Homo sapiens: one gene and its partner. The protein of the gene in region 2 interacts with the protein of the main gene of each other region in a pairwise test. Each region holds a gene or a part of one and is shown on either strand. Other genes may lie near its edges.

Region 1 (3,731 bases), on a different chromosome or scaffold from region 2:
ATTGGCTGAGCATGGCATCGTGCACCTGTAGTCCCAGCTACTCGGGGCGGGGGGCCGAGGTGGGAAGATAGCTTGAGCCCAGCTTGAGCCCAGGAGGCAGAGGTTGCAATGAGCTGAGATTATGACACTGTACTCCAGCCTGGGTGACACAGTGGGACCCTGTCCCACAAAAAAGAAAAAAAAAAGAAAAAATATGAATATTAGTACTATTTGGTGTTTGTTCGCCTTTGTTCTCAGTGAGGCTTCAGCAGTATCACCTAACACTGTAGGTGTAAATATCAACACATTAGAAAAGGCAGAAAGTCTTTCAAAGTACCACTATTAAAAGCAGAGGCAGAAAGAGAGATGAGATACAGAGCACATATGTATTCACAAAATTTAAGTAAGTAAACATCCACTAAGTGCAAGATACTGTGTACTGGCTTAGTAAATATGACTAAGACATGTATTATATGTCTTGTTATTATATATCATTATACTAGTATTATAATAAAAATATTTTTGACCTTGTGGGCCTCCTCAGAGGTCTCAAGGACTTCCAGTGATCTGTTGACCACACTTAGGTAAGTGGTAACCTTGATTATAGTCCTAAGGTTTCAACAGCTAGGCCTTCCAGAGCTACAGACATATTTTAGCATATGGATTTTGGCATATACTTTCCTATTAAACTATTCTTTAAGAAAAGTACTTCTAAAGTAATAATGAGGTATCTAAGAACATGATATTAAAATATAAAGAAAAAACCCAAATTAGAGTAAAATCTTAAGGCAGTGTACTCTTGCTACAGTTGGGTATCTCAATATTCTTCACTTGTTTTCAGCTATTTAATCTACTACTGTTTTTCCAAATCAGCTTGAGAACATTTCTTTCAACTACTCTGAATCTTTATGCCCCTGCTCAAAATCGTCTGAAGAGTCTTAAGTGCAGGCTTCTAGGATCAAAAGTTCTTGTGCAATACTTTCTCCCATCCTAAAGGTAATTCTACTGGCAAGAAACCTTTATATCTGGCAGCTTAAAATTAAGAAGAGAAAAACAGGCTGTTTGCTCTTCCAATTTCCCAACTCTTAAAAATTCAGGCTCCTCTCTCATTATATAGCCATGCAGAAACAGAATGTTAGGAAGCAGAATGGTCTACCTACTCTCTATAAAACCCTCATAGTCATTAGTACAAAGGAATGAATTTCCTTTCTATCCACATGACCAGCTTGTTACAGATTAACATCCCCACACTACTCTGGCCAGATCTTCCCTTTCTGATTAATAGCTGTAAATGTGCTTATATGTCATCACACTTGGAGTTATATATGAAAAATACACAATCCAGTGTCCTAATAACACAATCTGATGACAGAAGCCTGTTTATTAAAGGAGCCATGCCCTTTTCTCCTTTTCTAAACATTTCTCAACAAAATCTGTGCTGCTTTTGTGCTTCCTCTCTCTCCACGAGTACAGTACCAAAAAGAGCTATAATAATGCAAATCTTCTGACTTACGTTGACCCCACTGTCCACTACTGGGATTCAGATAGTTAGGATAAAGGCCTTGTGGTTTTTCCAGTTTGTTCAGTACTGTTCGAATATTCATTACCTATAATAGAAAATAAAATGTTACCGTGAAAATCTAAAAAACAATTTTCATGCCATTCTTCTTCTTCTTGAACATACAAGTTGACTTAAATGATGCAGAGTTAGAACAAAGATAACTGCTGTTAGCTTATTATTACAAACATAATGGCAGTAAGTGAATATAGTCACACTGATTAGTTATCTACCATTAGCCAGATGCCATACTAGGAACAAGGGGCCAGTGGATAAACAAAGTCACCACACTCTTAGAATTGTGCATCCTAGTGGGACGGGACAGACAATAAATCAATAAGTCTAGTCATGTGTCCCTTAATGACAGGGATACATGCTGGGAAACACAGGCAATTTAATTCTTGTACAAACATCATAGAGCACACTGTCACAAATGTAGTTGGCACAGCCTACTGTTTCTAGGTTACAAACCTGTGTAGCATATGTTACTGTACTGAAGTATTTGTGTATCTAAACACAGAAAAATACACTATAAAAGATGAAAAATGATACCTTTCTATAGGGTTATACATTTTATAACCCTATACATAAATACAGGGCACTTTGTATAGGGCATTTATCATGAATGAAACTCGCAGGACTGGAAGTTGCAGTGGATGAGTTAGTAAGTGAGTAATAAGTGAATGTGAAGGCCTGGGACGTTACTGTATAGTACTGTAAACTTTATAAACATGGTACACTTAGCCATTATTAATACATTTATAAAAGTATTTTTCTTTCAATAATAAATTAACGTTAGTTTACTGTAATTTTACTTTATAAACTTTTTAATTAAAAAAATTTTGACTCTTTTGTAATAACCATTAGCTTAAAACACACTTTGTATAGTTGTACCAAAATATTTTCTTTCTTTATATTCTTATAAGTTTTTTCTATTTAAAATTTCTTTTTAAAGTTGTTTAACTTTTTAAACTTTTTGTTAAAAACTAAGACACATATACACATTAGCTTAGGACTCCACAGGACCATCAATATCACTGTCTTCCACTTCTACATCTTATCGCACTGGAAGGTCTTTCAGGGGCAGTAGCACGCATGGAGCTGTCAACTCCTGTGATGATAATGCCTTGAAGAGGAATACCTCTTGAAGGACCTTGCTTCTAGAGCTAACTTAAAAAAAAAGTGGTACATTCTAAAATAACAATAAAAACCATAGTAGTACATAAATCAGTAATGCAGTCATTTAATTATCAAATATTATGTACTGTACATAATTATATGTGCTATACTTTTATGTGACTGGGAGTAGAGTATGTTTATGCCATCACCACCACAAACATGTAAGTAACGCATTGCACTACGACATTATGACAACTATGATGTCACAAGGCCGTAGGAATTTTGTCAACTCCATTATAAACTTACAGGACCACTGTCACATATGTGGTCCACTGTTGAATAAACACTGTTAAGTAACACCTAACTGTATAGTATGTCAGGAGATGATAAATACTGTGGAAAAAAATAAAAGGGTGCTATGGATTGAACTGCATACCCCTAATTTCATATGCTGAAACCCTACTTCCCAGTGTGATTGTATTTGGAGATTTATTTGGAGATGGTAATTAGGTTATGACGGTAGAGCCTTAAATGGGATTAGTGCCCTCATGAGAGACACAAGAGCTCTCTCTCTCTCTCTGTGACTCCTTCTCTCCCTCAGAGCACAAAGAAGACATCATGTGAACACACACTGGGACAGTTCTCGTCATCTACAAGCCCAGGGAAGAGGCTCAGAATAAAACCTACCTCATGGGCAGTTTGATCTTGGATTTCCCAGCCTCCAGAACTGTAAGAAATAAATTTCGGTTGTTTCTGGCTGCATTTTTGTTATGGTAACCCGAGCTGATTGAGAGTTAACGGGACAGGGTGATGTGGAGAGGCTATCCCATGTTAGTCAGAGTGGCCTGGCAAGGCGGAGGTGTTTGAGCAGAATATTAAAGAAGTGAGGGAGTAGGCCACGTGGAAATGTGGAGGAAGAGCACTCGGAACAGAGAGAGGAGCAAGTACAAAGGCCCTGAGGAGACAGCAGGTTTGCAATGCTACTGAGGCCAGAGGTGAGGAGACAAAGGGGAGAATGTCAGCAGGTAGAGGAGAGGAGAGCCAGGGCCCAGGTCACCCAGGCCCCACAGGCCAC
Region 2 (3,917 bases):
TTTTATGTATAGTTTTTTTTCCCCCACTAAGTAGACCATGGCCATTTGTCCATATCCACACATCATCTTTTTTTAAAGTGAAAGGCCACTCTTAAAATGCTAACGCCCCCAAGCAAGGCAGAATCTTACATGTTCATGAGCCAACATGTGCCTAAGTGGACAGGTTCTGGGGAGGGAAAGGAGAACACAAGGTTGTGTTTTACCAGTGTCACAACTGTCCTCACGGTCAGTCTGTCCAAGAACAGCCTGGGAGGCCGGGTGTGGCGGCTCATGCCTGTAATCCCAACACTTTGGGAAGCCGAGGCAGGAGGACTGCTTGAGCCCAGGAGTTTGAGACCAGCCTGGGCAACAAGGAGAGACCCCATCTCTACAAAAACAAAAATTAGCCAGGCGTGGTGGCGCACTCCTGTAGTCCCAGCTACTTGGGAGACTGAGGTGGGAGGATCACTTGAGCCCAGGAGTTCGAGGCTCCAGGGAGCTATGATTGTGCCACTGCACCCTACCCTGGGCAACAGAGACCAACACTGTCTCAGGAAAAAACAAAAACAAAGCGGGAGGCCGGGCGCAGTAGCTCACGCCTGTAATACTAGCACTTTGGGAGGCTGCAGTAGGCGAATCATTTGAGGTCAGGAGTTGACCAGCCTGACCAACATGGCAAAACCCGGTCTCTACCAAAAACACAAAAATTAGCCGGGTGTGGTGGCACATGCCTGTAATCCCAGCTACTCGGGAGGCTAAGGCACGAAAATCGCTTGAACCTGGGAGGCAGTGGTTGCAGTGGCAGAGATCACATCATTGCACTCCGGTTTTTGAGACCCTGTCTCAAATAAATAAATAAATAAATAAATAAATAAATAAATAAAGCAGGGCTCACTCAGGGAAACTAATTTTCACATTACAGCAGGCAGGCCACAGCGCAACGCCCTGCTGATCCAGTGACTACAAAGTCCATCCCGCTGTAATCCTGGCCTGTATGAGCCCTCCCTCTGACCCCCTTCCCAGTGCCAATCTGACAAAGAAAGGTCATGGCAGGACCTGGGGGAAGAGAACAACAGAGCCACTGCCAGGCCCCATGGCCAGTTTGGCCCCAGTGGACATCTCATTGGAACCTTCTCTGTTTGCAGCGCCCAGCGGGTCTCAGCCCTCCCTGCCAGCCAAGCACACAGGGGGCCCTCTTGTCCACTCAGGCTGGGCAGCTCTCAAAGCACTCTCTCACACAGCATCCCTTACCATCCTCCAGGCTACCCAGGGATGTAGGCAAGAATTGCAGCCCCCAGATTCAAAGACAAAGAGACTGAGGCTTCCATGTGCCAAGTATCCCTAGAAGTCAGCAGACCTCTGATTTCAGCCTGTATCACCTGATGTCAAGACAGCTGTCTTCCCTCCACCTGCCCTTCCCCACGGCTTTGGGTTTTGGTTATTTCACAGCAAAAACTGAGACACAATCCCATTTTAAAGAAGAAGAAATTGAGGCACAGAAATTACATAATCTGCCAGAGGTCCCACAGCTATGAAGAGGGAGCTGGGATTCAATGCCAGGCGGTCTGGCTCCAGAGGCCAAGCTTTGCCGGCTGTCCTATAGCTAAGTCACTCTACAAGTTTCAAATGTTTCTCCACTCACCTACTTCCCCAAAGGGAAATAAGCAGTATGGGGGGACCACTGAAGCCCAAGGCCTTCAGTACCACCATTCTGATGGCCAAACTTCAAGTCAGAGCTATGGGGGCAGTGCAGCAGCCCTGGCTCAGGCTACCCTGAAGAGACGCAAAGACCACACATGTGTTTTTTCTTTATAATCAACCAATCACCAAAGGTCCTGTTAACACTCCACCTCTCCCCACCCCAACCTTCCTCAACCTGCAGACAATGTCTGTACCGTCAGCTCTCTTCCTCCTCCACTTTAAGGCTGATGTTATCTCTTCAGACTATCTGGGGTCTGCAGGCCTCAACTCTGATGCCCCCTATTTCAACAAAGCTTTGGCCTCTCAAAGGGCCCTGAGTGACTCTCCTAGAATCCCCCTCACCCCACTACAATTGCTTGCTTGAATCCAGGAGACGGCAAGCTCCATGAGGCAGGGACGTGCCTGATTATTTGTTGACCACCCTGGTCCCCAGTGCCCCACACAGGATTTGCTGCAGGAAGGCCTCCAGGCCAATGTTTACTTCAACCAGATCTCACCTGTGTACAAGAAGGTCAGGGGTGTAGGGGCTCTGCCAGCTTAGACCGGGCAGCCTGCCACCAGGCCTGGAATCTGGTGCAGCTTCAAGAAACAGTTACTCCTCCCTCCCCCGGTCTATCTATGCTTCAAACATTCCCTAGCAGTTTCTTCGAAGCACAACTGAGTCTTACAGGACCTAGTCCCTAGTGCATTCCACCCACACGTTTTAATGGAGAAAGTGCTGGGACGTATCACTGTCCTTTGATAGAGGAATTTTTCTCCTGATTTGTGCTAATAATTCATGAGGGAGGGGCCGGGCAGCTTCCAGTTTACTCTCACCTCCAAGTTTCTAAGCTCAAAACAGAGTTTTTGTTTGTACCATTGCTCCTTGGGTCCAAAAAAAAAAAAAAAAAGTTTTAAGAGAAAACATTTGCTGGTTTTCAGAGGGAGGAAAGGCAGAGATAATGAGTGCTGGCTTAAGCATGTTTGAGGAACACAGATACTCAGAAACAAAGATTTTTCAAACCACCCTGCAAGTATAAGCAGAAACTATTCCCACCTGACCTGAGCAATGAGGAAAAGGACGGACCCCTTCACAGCCCTGGAACAGCCCACTTTCAGAGCAAGCACGGGAAATGATGAAAACATTACAAATTGTGCTTAAAACCACATAAACATGGGCATAAAATATTACAAATCTTTATTCTGATTAGACTTAGAAATTCTCAGTGTGGCTTCTGTTTTAACAAACATTTGAAAAGAGACAGACCTATAAAATAGGCATTTAAAAATTACATCAGCATATTGAGTTTTACTATCTCACCTAGCAGGGCTGTCGCACACCTGAATGACCCATTTATCTCTGACTCACTGCCTCCTCTTCCATCCATTACTCGCCCATGCCTGGCACAAGGCCCCCTTGCTGGCCCTCAGCTAAGCCAGGCTTAGCCCTGATGCGCCCTCCAGCTGGAATGTTCTTCCCCCACATGGCCTGAGGCTTGCTCACTCTCTCCAGACAATACTGCATTCCTCTCCCTCCCCTTGCCTCCAAACACCCACCAGCTGAGTCCCCTTCCAGCTCTTTGCCTCCTTTGTATACATCAGATAACCTACCATGTGTATTTTAACTTTTTATTGCGTTTTCCACCCCCTCTGCAATGTAAGCCTCAGAAAAGCAGGGACTTCTGTCCATTCTCTTCACTGCTCTGTCCCCATCACCGAAAATTGCCCCCATCACGTAGTAGGTGCTCAATAAATACTTAGTGAATTAAAAAGCTGGTCAGGCGCAGTGGCTCACACCTGTAATCCCAGCATTTTGTGAGGCCAAGGGAGGCAGATCGCTCTCAGCTCCAGAGTTTGAAACCGGCCTGGCCAACATTGCAAAACCCATCTTTCCTAAAAATACAAAAATTAGCCAGCGTGGTGGTGTGAGCCTTTGGTCCTGGCTACTTGGGAGGCTGAAGCTGGAGAATCGCTTGAACCCGGGAGGCTGAGGCTGCAGTGAGCCGAGATTGTGACACTGCACTCCAGCCTGAGTGACAGAGCAAGACCCTGTCTCAATAAATAAATAAAGCTGACTGATCAATGGATCTGTGGGAAAATGCTTATTTTCCTAACTTAAAACATCAGGCTTATATCCAAGGGCTCTCTGGTTAAAAGGTTCCTCCTTTTACAGCTTGAAAAGGTTGGCTTTTGCTGATATAAATCAGCATGCAAAGGGGACCCAGCACTGTTCAAATAAGGTCAGAGGCAAACCCAGG

Evidence for each region. Proteins that work in one complex are often made in the same cells at the same time.
Region 1: the proteins of SH3BP5 (region 2) and MAN1A1 interact in a two-hybrid assay, tested with the Homo sapiens proteins (one large-scale study listed by IntAct).

What each region holds. Positions count from the first base shown.
Region 1 is NC_000006.12:119,199,762-119,203,492, forward strand, and holds part of MAN1A1 (mannosyl-oligosaccharide 1,2-alpha-mannosidase IA), read right to left. Parts: intron 1,587-3,731; coding exon 1,493-1,586; intron 1-1,492. UniProt on the Homo sapiens protein: Involved in the maturation of Asn-linked oligosaccharides. Progressively trim alpha-1,2-linked mannose residues from Man(9)GlcNAc(2) to produce Man(5)GlcNAc(2).
Region 2 is NC_000003.12:15,322,304-15,326,220, forward strand, and holds part of SH3BP5 (SH3 domain-binding protein 5), read right to left. Parts: intron 1-3,917. UniProt on the Homo sapiens protein: Functions as a guanine nucleotide exchange factor (GEF) with specificity for RAB11A and RAB25. Inhibits the auto- and transphosphorylation activity of BTK. Plays a negative regulatory role in BTK-related cytoplasmic signaling in B-cells.